Linked DNA regions of Homo sapiens. The gene in region 1 interacts genetically with each later gene. Each region holds a gene or a part of one and is shown on either strand. Other genes may lie near its edges. The genes, in order: PRKCZ and NR5A1.

Region 1 (3,809 bases):
ACGGGCGGGGTCGGGGCGTGGCAGCCAGCCCATTGTCCAAGCAGACCTTGGTGACCCTGGGTTCTTCAAGAGGGGCCGTGGTGCCGTCCTAGCTCTGGGCTGCAGCGTGAGACTCAGGCGGCAGTCTTGGATAGGACCCATCTTCCTGAGCCCCCACAAGCCCCCGGCACACTCTGCTCATTGGGGCATGAGGCTCAGGCAGCAGGCTCAGGTAGGACGTGGTACGCTCTGCTCAGTGGGTCGGAGGTAAGGTTCATTCATACCCCAGTCTTGAACCAGCTCTTAAGGACTGTGGAGGTGAAAGCCAGGTCTGACCTAGTAGCATTGGGCACGCTGAGGCTCCGAACATCTGGAGCCTCTCCCTGGCATCCCCCCTGGGAAGCCATGCCCAGCCTGTGATGAGGGCGGCACCTTCCCTCCGCCATCCCCGAGTGCTTGGACTTGAAGCATCCAGGCCTTTGGGGGCCTTATTGACTTTTGCTTATTGAAGGCTGCCTCTGGCATTTCCGTGTGGCCCCCTGCATCCCACTGAACCACGGGGGTGAGGCCTGGACTGAACATTCAACTCCCTGGGCCCTGCTGCAGCGTGCAGTGGGTGTGTCTGGGGAGGGTGGCTTGTCTGCATCTTGCTGTGGCATGGGAGGAAAGGCGCCTGTGGCAGTGACGTGCCCTCTCCTCTGTTACGGGATAAAGACAGAGTCTGGATCAGGGTGTCACCCCAGGATCACCAGCCACAGGGATGGGGGACCACGCAGGCTGGTGCATGCGTTGGCACAGTCCTTCCAGAGGTCCTTCAGCTGCATCTGCCAAAAAGCCTGTAATGCCCTTTGACCTCATAGGTCCACTTTAGCGTAAGCAAATGAGACCGGCCCCAGAAATGTGGTCAGCTAGAGGCGGAGGGAGGCCAGAGCCTGCCACCCAGCTGACCACCAGTACTGGTGGCTCCATTATGACATATCTGCAGGCGGAACCCAGAGGCCCTTAGAATGGCCCCCTGATGCTTGGTTACTGACAGGATGCAGCTTTGGGACAGGGGAGATGACCAAGCATTGTGCAAAATATCCCGTTGTATAAAGCACTTGGTGGAAAGGTCATGGCCTGCAGTACCGAGTGGCCACCTCCGTCTGCAGAATCATAGGTAATGTTTATGTTCTTTATCTAATTCAGTAAAATAGCATAACAATTAGATTTTTATATACTATATTACAGTATACCCATTGTAATGTGTAAATATGTAAATCATAAATAGTCTTGAAGTGGCCAGGTGCAGAGGCTCACACCTGTAATCCCAACACTTTGGGAGGCCAAGGTGGGAAGATCACTTGAGGCCAGGAGTTCAAGACCAGCCTGAGCAATATGGTGAGACCCCATCTCTACAAAAAAAATACAAAAATTAGCCAGGCATGGTGGTGCGCACCTGTAGTGCCCGCTGCTCTGGAAGCTGAGGCGGGAGGATTGCTCGAGCTCAGGAGGTTGAAGCTGCAGTGAGCCGTGATCGCGCCACTGCTCTCCAGCCTGGATGATGACAGACTGTGACCCTGTCTGTAAAAAAAAGTTCTTAATTTTAAAAAGTCACAAAGTGTTTACAGAAGCTACATTGTAACACCTGCTCTAGCACTTGGTCATGCTGCCATCTCTGTGTCTCTCCGGCAGGATTCTGTCATGCCTTCCCAAGAGCCTCCAGTAGACGACAAGAACGAGGACGCCGACCTTCCTTCCGAGGAGACAGATGGAAGTAGGCGCTGCTTTCTTCCGGCCGGGTAGAGCCTGGGCATCACCTCACCCTGCTCACCTCTGCCTTCTAGCCACGAGTCCTTTCTCAGTCCCATCTGCTCTGCAGGGGTCATTGTCTTCAAGCCTGGCCACCCTTCCCTGGGGCTGGGGATGAGGCTCTCCAGGGCCTCCTCTCAATCCCCGGCAGAGATGAGCAGGGTGAGCTGGCCCTCCCTGGAGGCTGCTGGGCAGGGATGCCTCCGTGAAGTGCTGTTGTGGTTGCCCAGGGGTGCAGAGCCTCTTCCTCTAACCAGCTCCGGGAGTTCTCGAAGGCACTTAGTGCAGCAGCCACCATGGCCGGGCACCTCCCACAATCTGGCTGCTGCACAGAGCTGAGCCCTATCTGGGGAAAGCCTGGCGAGGTGGCTGCTGCACACACAGCGTGGCAGTGGCATGGTCCTTGGATTTTTGTGAGGTTTTGTTTGTTGTGGGGAAGGACTTGTTTTATTGCTAAGAAGCATTCAGAGAGAGATCTCAAACACCAGTTGGACTTACAGCCCAGGTTTGAGCCTCCACACCTGCACCTCTGCACGGGGGTGTGAGAGCCTCACTTTCACTTGATGCATGTGAGTTCTGTCTCATTGGGAGACCACAGAACATAAAGCACTTATGAGACCACAGAACATAAAGCACTTAGTTCACACAGTGCCTCACGCAAAAGAGATGCCTCACAAACAACTGCCTGCCCACCTGCTCCTCCACCCACCTATCCTCTATACAGATATTCATCCGTACATCATCCATTCACCCACCTAGCCAACCAACCAGCCCTCATCCAGCCAACCAGCCATCCTCCACCCGCCCATTCTCCATCCATCCACCACCTATCCATCTATCCACGATCCATCCATCTCGTCATCCAGCCAGCCAGCCAGCCATCCTCCACCCACCCATCCTCCAGCTATCTTCCATTCGTTCATCTGTTGTCCACTGACCTCTCCATCTATCCATGTATCTATTGTCCACTGACCTCTCCATCTATCCATCTATTGTCCACTGACCTCTCCGTCTATCCGTCTATTGTCCACTGACCTCTCCATCCAACCGTCTATTGTCCACTGACCTCTCCATCTATCCATCCATCTTTTGTCCACTGACGTCTCCATCTATCCATCTGTCTGTTGTCCACTGACCTCTCCACCCATCTATCTGTTGTCCACTGACCTCTCCATCTTTCCATCTGTTGTCCACTGACCTCTCCATCTATCCATCTATTGTCCACTGACCTCTCTATCTATCCATCTATTGTTCACTGACCTCTCCTTCCATCTATCTGTTGTCCACTGACCTCTCCATCTATCCATCTATCTTGTCCACTGACGTCTCCATCTATCCACACATCTGTTGTCCACTGACGTCTCCATCTGTTCATCTATCTGTTGTCCACTGACCTCTCCACCCATCTGTCTGTTGTCCACTGACCTCTCCATCTTTCCGTCTATTGTCCACTGACCTTTCCATCTATCCAGCTATTGTCCACTGACCTCTCCATCTATCCATCCATCTATTGTCCACTGACGTCTCCATCTGTCCATCTATCTGTTGTCCACTGACCTGTCCACCCATCTGTCTGTTGTCCACTGACCTCTCCATCTATCCATCCACTGTCCACTGACCTCTCCATCTATCCATCCATTGTCCACTGACCTCTCCATCTATCCATCCATCTATTGTCCACTGACGTCTCCATCTGTCCATCTATCTGTTGTCCACTGACCTGTCCACCCATCTGTCTGTAGTCCACTGACCTCTCCATCTTTCCGTCTGTTGTCCACTGACCTCTCCGTCTATCCATCTATCTATTGTCCACTGACCTCTCCATCTATCCATCTATTGTCCACTGACCTCTCCATCTATCCATCCATCTATTGTCCACTGACCTCTCCATCTATCCATCCACTGTCCACTGACCTCTCCATCTATCCATCCATCTATTGTCTACTGACCTCTCCATCTATCCATCCATCTATTGTCCACTGACGTCTCCATCTATCCATCTGTCTGTTGTCCACTGACCTGTCCACCCATCTGTCTGT
Region 2 (3,809 bases), on another chromosome or scaffold:
TCATGGCTCCCACTGACCACAGGGGAAGTCAGTCTCCTTTGCCTGGCATTCAAGGCCCTGCTCAGCTTTTCAGGCAATCCCTGCTAAGACCCCTCTCCTTCCACTCCACCGAACTCACCTCCACTCCTCTGTTTGACACATCTCCTTCCTCCTCCACCCTGCCTTTCATTTTCCTTCTGACTCAAACTTTTTTTTTTCTCTTGTGCTTGCTGAACACCCAGCCTCAATGTCACTACTTCCAGGAAGCACTCCTGGATTCATGCAAACGGGCTCTACTGTCCTTGCCCCAGGTGCCCTGTCCTTGCCCACTCTTATCATGCTGAGTGGATCATGCCATGTGCTCCTGCGGGCTAAGTTCTGGGCTCAGGTGTCTAGCATAAGGCCTGGCAGGGAGATGGTGACCGGAAGGGGACCCTGGTCAGCCTTGTTCACCGCTGGCCCCAGGGTCCAGCTGTTTGTTGACTGACTGCCTGACTGTTGAGCTCCTGCTTCAAAATGACTCAAGTATCCTTCACTGGCTGCGAATGTGAAGCCAAGTTTAGAGCTGGCCAAGGCTCTATGCTGGGGGAGGGGACCTCTCTTGCCGACTAGAAGCTCCTCCGCCTGGCGAGGAATGTGTCATCAGCCAGACCCAACAGGTACATCTCTGCAGCTGGAGTGTGCCCCCCGCCCCTGCTCAGACAGGGCCCCACCCTGGGATCTGGGCGAGGGGAAAGAGCAGGAGAGAGGGGGTGGTGGTGCTCAGCAGGGATGATGGCTGGGGGGCTGCCTGGCCAATCTTCCTGCCCCCTGGGGTGGGCAGCGCTGTGCTGCTCGCAGGCTGCACGGGAGTTTCTACTGCCCACAACAGCCAGCTATCTGGCCCCTTGGGACCTGGCACTAGGGGCATGGGCTCTGGGGACAGGACAGGATGTCCCCTCTCCCATCCAGGAGTCCTTTCTCCAGGTGGCAGGGCATGTGGTCCACCACTCTCAGAGCCACCTGGGGCTTTCTACACTGTTCCAAGACCTTAATCAACCACTGCCTGTTCAGCACACAGTCCAGTGACCGGCCACCTCCAGAAGCTCAAATCTTTCCTGCCAAAACTTACCTCCTCCTCTCTGGGCTGAGAGCTGGGGTTGAGGGTAGGGAGGCAAAGAGGGGCCTGGGTTTCTTGGGGGCAATTCAATTGTCCCCCACTGCCCGGCCCCCTCAGGGCCTGGCTAAGAACATGACGGGAAGGAATCTCACTGGCTGAGCCAATAAACCAGAGAGCCCTTTGGATGGACGGACAGACAAGCAGATGGGCAGCTGAATGTGTGGGGGCTGGGCGGTGGTGGTGGGCAGATCCTAATGGAAAGCGTGATGGGCTTGACAGCTAACCTGCGGCAATGAACGCCTAGGCACCTTCAGCTTGCCTGCACCGATCCCCACACTCACTCACTGGAGGAAGGCGCTGCCGTTAAGCCCATTTTTCTTTTCTTTCTTTCTCTTTCTGCCTTTTCTTTTCTTTCTTTTTTATTTTTATGTACTTATTTTTTGAGACAGGGTTTCCCTCTCGCCCAGGCTGGAGTGGAGTGGTGTGATCATAGCTCACTGCAGCCTCGACTTTCCAGGCTCAAGTGATCCCCCCACCTCAGCCTCCTGAGTAGCTAGGACTACAGGCACATGTCACCACGCCCAGCTACTTTTTTATATTTTATAGATACAAGGTTTCTCCATGTTGCCCAGGCTGGTCTTAAACTTCTGGGCTCAAGTGATCCTCTTGCCTCAGCCTCCCAAATGCTGGAATTACAGGCATGAGCCGCTCCATCCGGCCAAGCCCATGTTTCACATGGGAAATCTGCGGTTTAGAGAGGTTAAGGATTTTGCCCAATGTCACCCAGCCTGACTGACAGTGCGGGCACTGGGACTTGGCCTCTGCTGGCTGGGGTTGGGTATTTTGGGGGCATGGGGACCTCCTCACAGAGGGAGGAGCTCTGCCGACCCTGTGCTGGGGCCCTGGCAGGGGCTGGGGAAAGAGTCATCTCCATAGGGTTCACTTTTGGATACTTCTCAGCCCAACCCAGGCTGGCCTTGCCAGCGTCCCTTCCCCGCCCGAGGCCCACCCAGCGCCAGCGCCCGGTTCTCTTGCAGCGACTGGGCCCTAATGTCGCACGAGGGGCCTTCGCGAAGGCCAATGGTACTATCCCCTCAGCCCCTCTCCCACCCCCACCCCCTACCCCCTCAGGCTGTGGGGGGTCAGGGGTCGAGGCCCGCGCGGCGCGCACCTTCCAGGCGCATCCCCACCGTCAGGCATTTCTGGAAGCGGCAGAAGGGACAGCGCTTGCGCTGCGTCTTGTCGATCTTGCAGCTCTGGCTCTCGGTGCACGTGTAGTGCTTGTTGTTCTGCACCGTGCGCTTGAAGAAGCCCTGCGGGAGCTGAGAGTCAGCGAGGCCCCGCAGCGCCCGTCTGCCGCACCCCTGCCGCGCGCTCGCCGCTCACCTTGCAGCTCTCACACGTGAGCAGTCCGTAGTGGTAGCCGGACACCTTGTCCCCGCACACGGGGCACAGCTCGTCCAGGTCCTCGTCGTACGAATAGTCCATGCCCGCGGCGTCCGCCTGCGGAGGGACAGCGGGTCAGGGAGGGCCGGCGGAGACCGGCAGCCTGGGGTCCCCGCGGCCGCCGCCCCAGCCGCTGTCGCCGGCCCGTCGCGTAATCCCCTCTCTGTGCCCAGGCGCTGCCGCCGGCACCCACCGAGCGCCCCGCGCAGCGTCCCGGGGTGGGTCCGGTGCAGTCCCCGCGCCCGGCCTTCCCCTGCCAGGCCCCACGCTCCCGCCCCGTCCGGGGGGCTCCTCCCGCGCGGACCCCGTCGCGCCCGATCTGGGGCCCTCGGGTTCGATGCGCTTCGATTGGGATTCGTTTGTCTGAGAACAAAACCCCGATTCTGAGAAAAAGAGATGGGCTCAGCCGCGGGGAAGACGCCAGGGGACCCAGGAGCGCTGGGGCGCCCGGCCCGGGTGTTCTGGGAACCCGACAGAGACGAAGGAGGCAGAGACAGAGTCCGGGGGAGCCAGAGATGGGAAGAAACTCTGGCGAGAGACAACGACCGACGCCACCGGGCGCAGACACGAGGCCAGTCCGAGAGTGCCAGAGACACAGACACTGAGACGCCCAGCTAGAGAGAACCCGGCGGGGACGAGACACAGGGAGGGATGGAGAGAGACAGGGAGACAGAGAGAGAGAGAGAGAGAGAGAGAGACGAGAGAGAGAGAGAGAGAGAGAAACGAGGGGTGGGGGATTGGATCAGAGACTCGGAGAGACAGCGGAGGCCCGAAGAGAAAACCCAAGAGAGACTGACGCAGAGCCAGAGACACAACGATAGACGACAGACAGAGACGCCGAGACGAGAGGAGCCCCGGAGAGACGAGGCCGGGGAGCTACAGAAACACGGAGAGAAAACCTGGAGGCGGAAGCGCCCAGCCCGAGGGTCGGGGACAGGGGACGCGCGGAAACCTGCCGGGCAGGAGCCCAAGCGCCAAGGCGAGGCCCCGCAGGGTCGGACCCAGACGGGGGCCCGGGCCGCAGGAGGCGGAAAACGACGGCGCCGGGACCGAGAGCCCGAAAACGCAGAGCCGCCGGGACCCCCTCCCCGGGGGAGACAAAGCCGCAGCAGCGACGGCAACGGGAGGCGCAGCCCGAGCCGCCGCTGCCACCGGGACGTCGGGCGGGGAGACCTCGGGCGGGGGTCGGCGGGCTCCGGGAAGCCGAGCCCGAGGCGAGGGAGCGACCTCGGGCGGAGAGGCGAAGTCCGGAGGAGGGAAGCGCGAAGAGCCAGGGCCCGGGACG

What was found.
Region 2: changes in PRKCZ (region 1) and NR5A1 together harm fitness more than expected from each alone (negative genetic interaction), as found in Homo sapiens cells (one large-scale study listed by BioGRID).

What each region holds. Positions count from the first base shown.
Region 1 is NC_000001.11:2,144,374-2,148,182, forward strand, and holds part of PRKCZ (protein kinase C zeta type), read left to right. Parts: intron 1-1,013; exon of another isoform or gene 1,014-1,138; intron 1,139-1,653; coding exon 1,654-1,735; exon of another isoform or gene 1,736-1,932; intron 1,933-3,809. UniProt on the Homo sapiens protein: Calcium- and diacylglycerol-independent serine/threonine-protein kinase that functions in phosphatidylinositol 3-kinase (PI3K) pathway and mitogen-activated protein (MAP) kinase cascade, and is involved in NF-kappa-B activation, mitogenic signaling, cell proliferation, cell polarity, inflammatory response and maintenance of long-term potentiation (LTP).
Region 2 is NC_000009.12:124,500,830-124,504,638, forward strand, and holds part of NR5A1 (steroidogenic factor 1), read right to left. Parts: intron 2,582-3,809; 5' UTR 2,567-2,581; coding exon 2,465-2,566; intron 2,392-2,464; coding exon 2,250-2,391; intron 1-2,249. UniProt on the Homo sapiens protein: Transcriptional activator. Essential for sexual differentiation and formation of the primary steroidogenic tissues. Binds to the Ad4 site found in the promoter region of steroidogenic P450 genes such as CYP11A, CYP11B and CYP21B.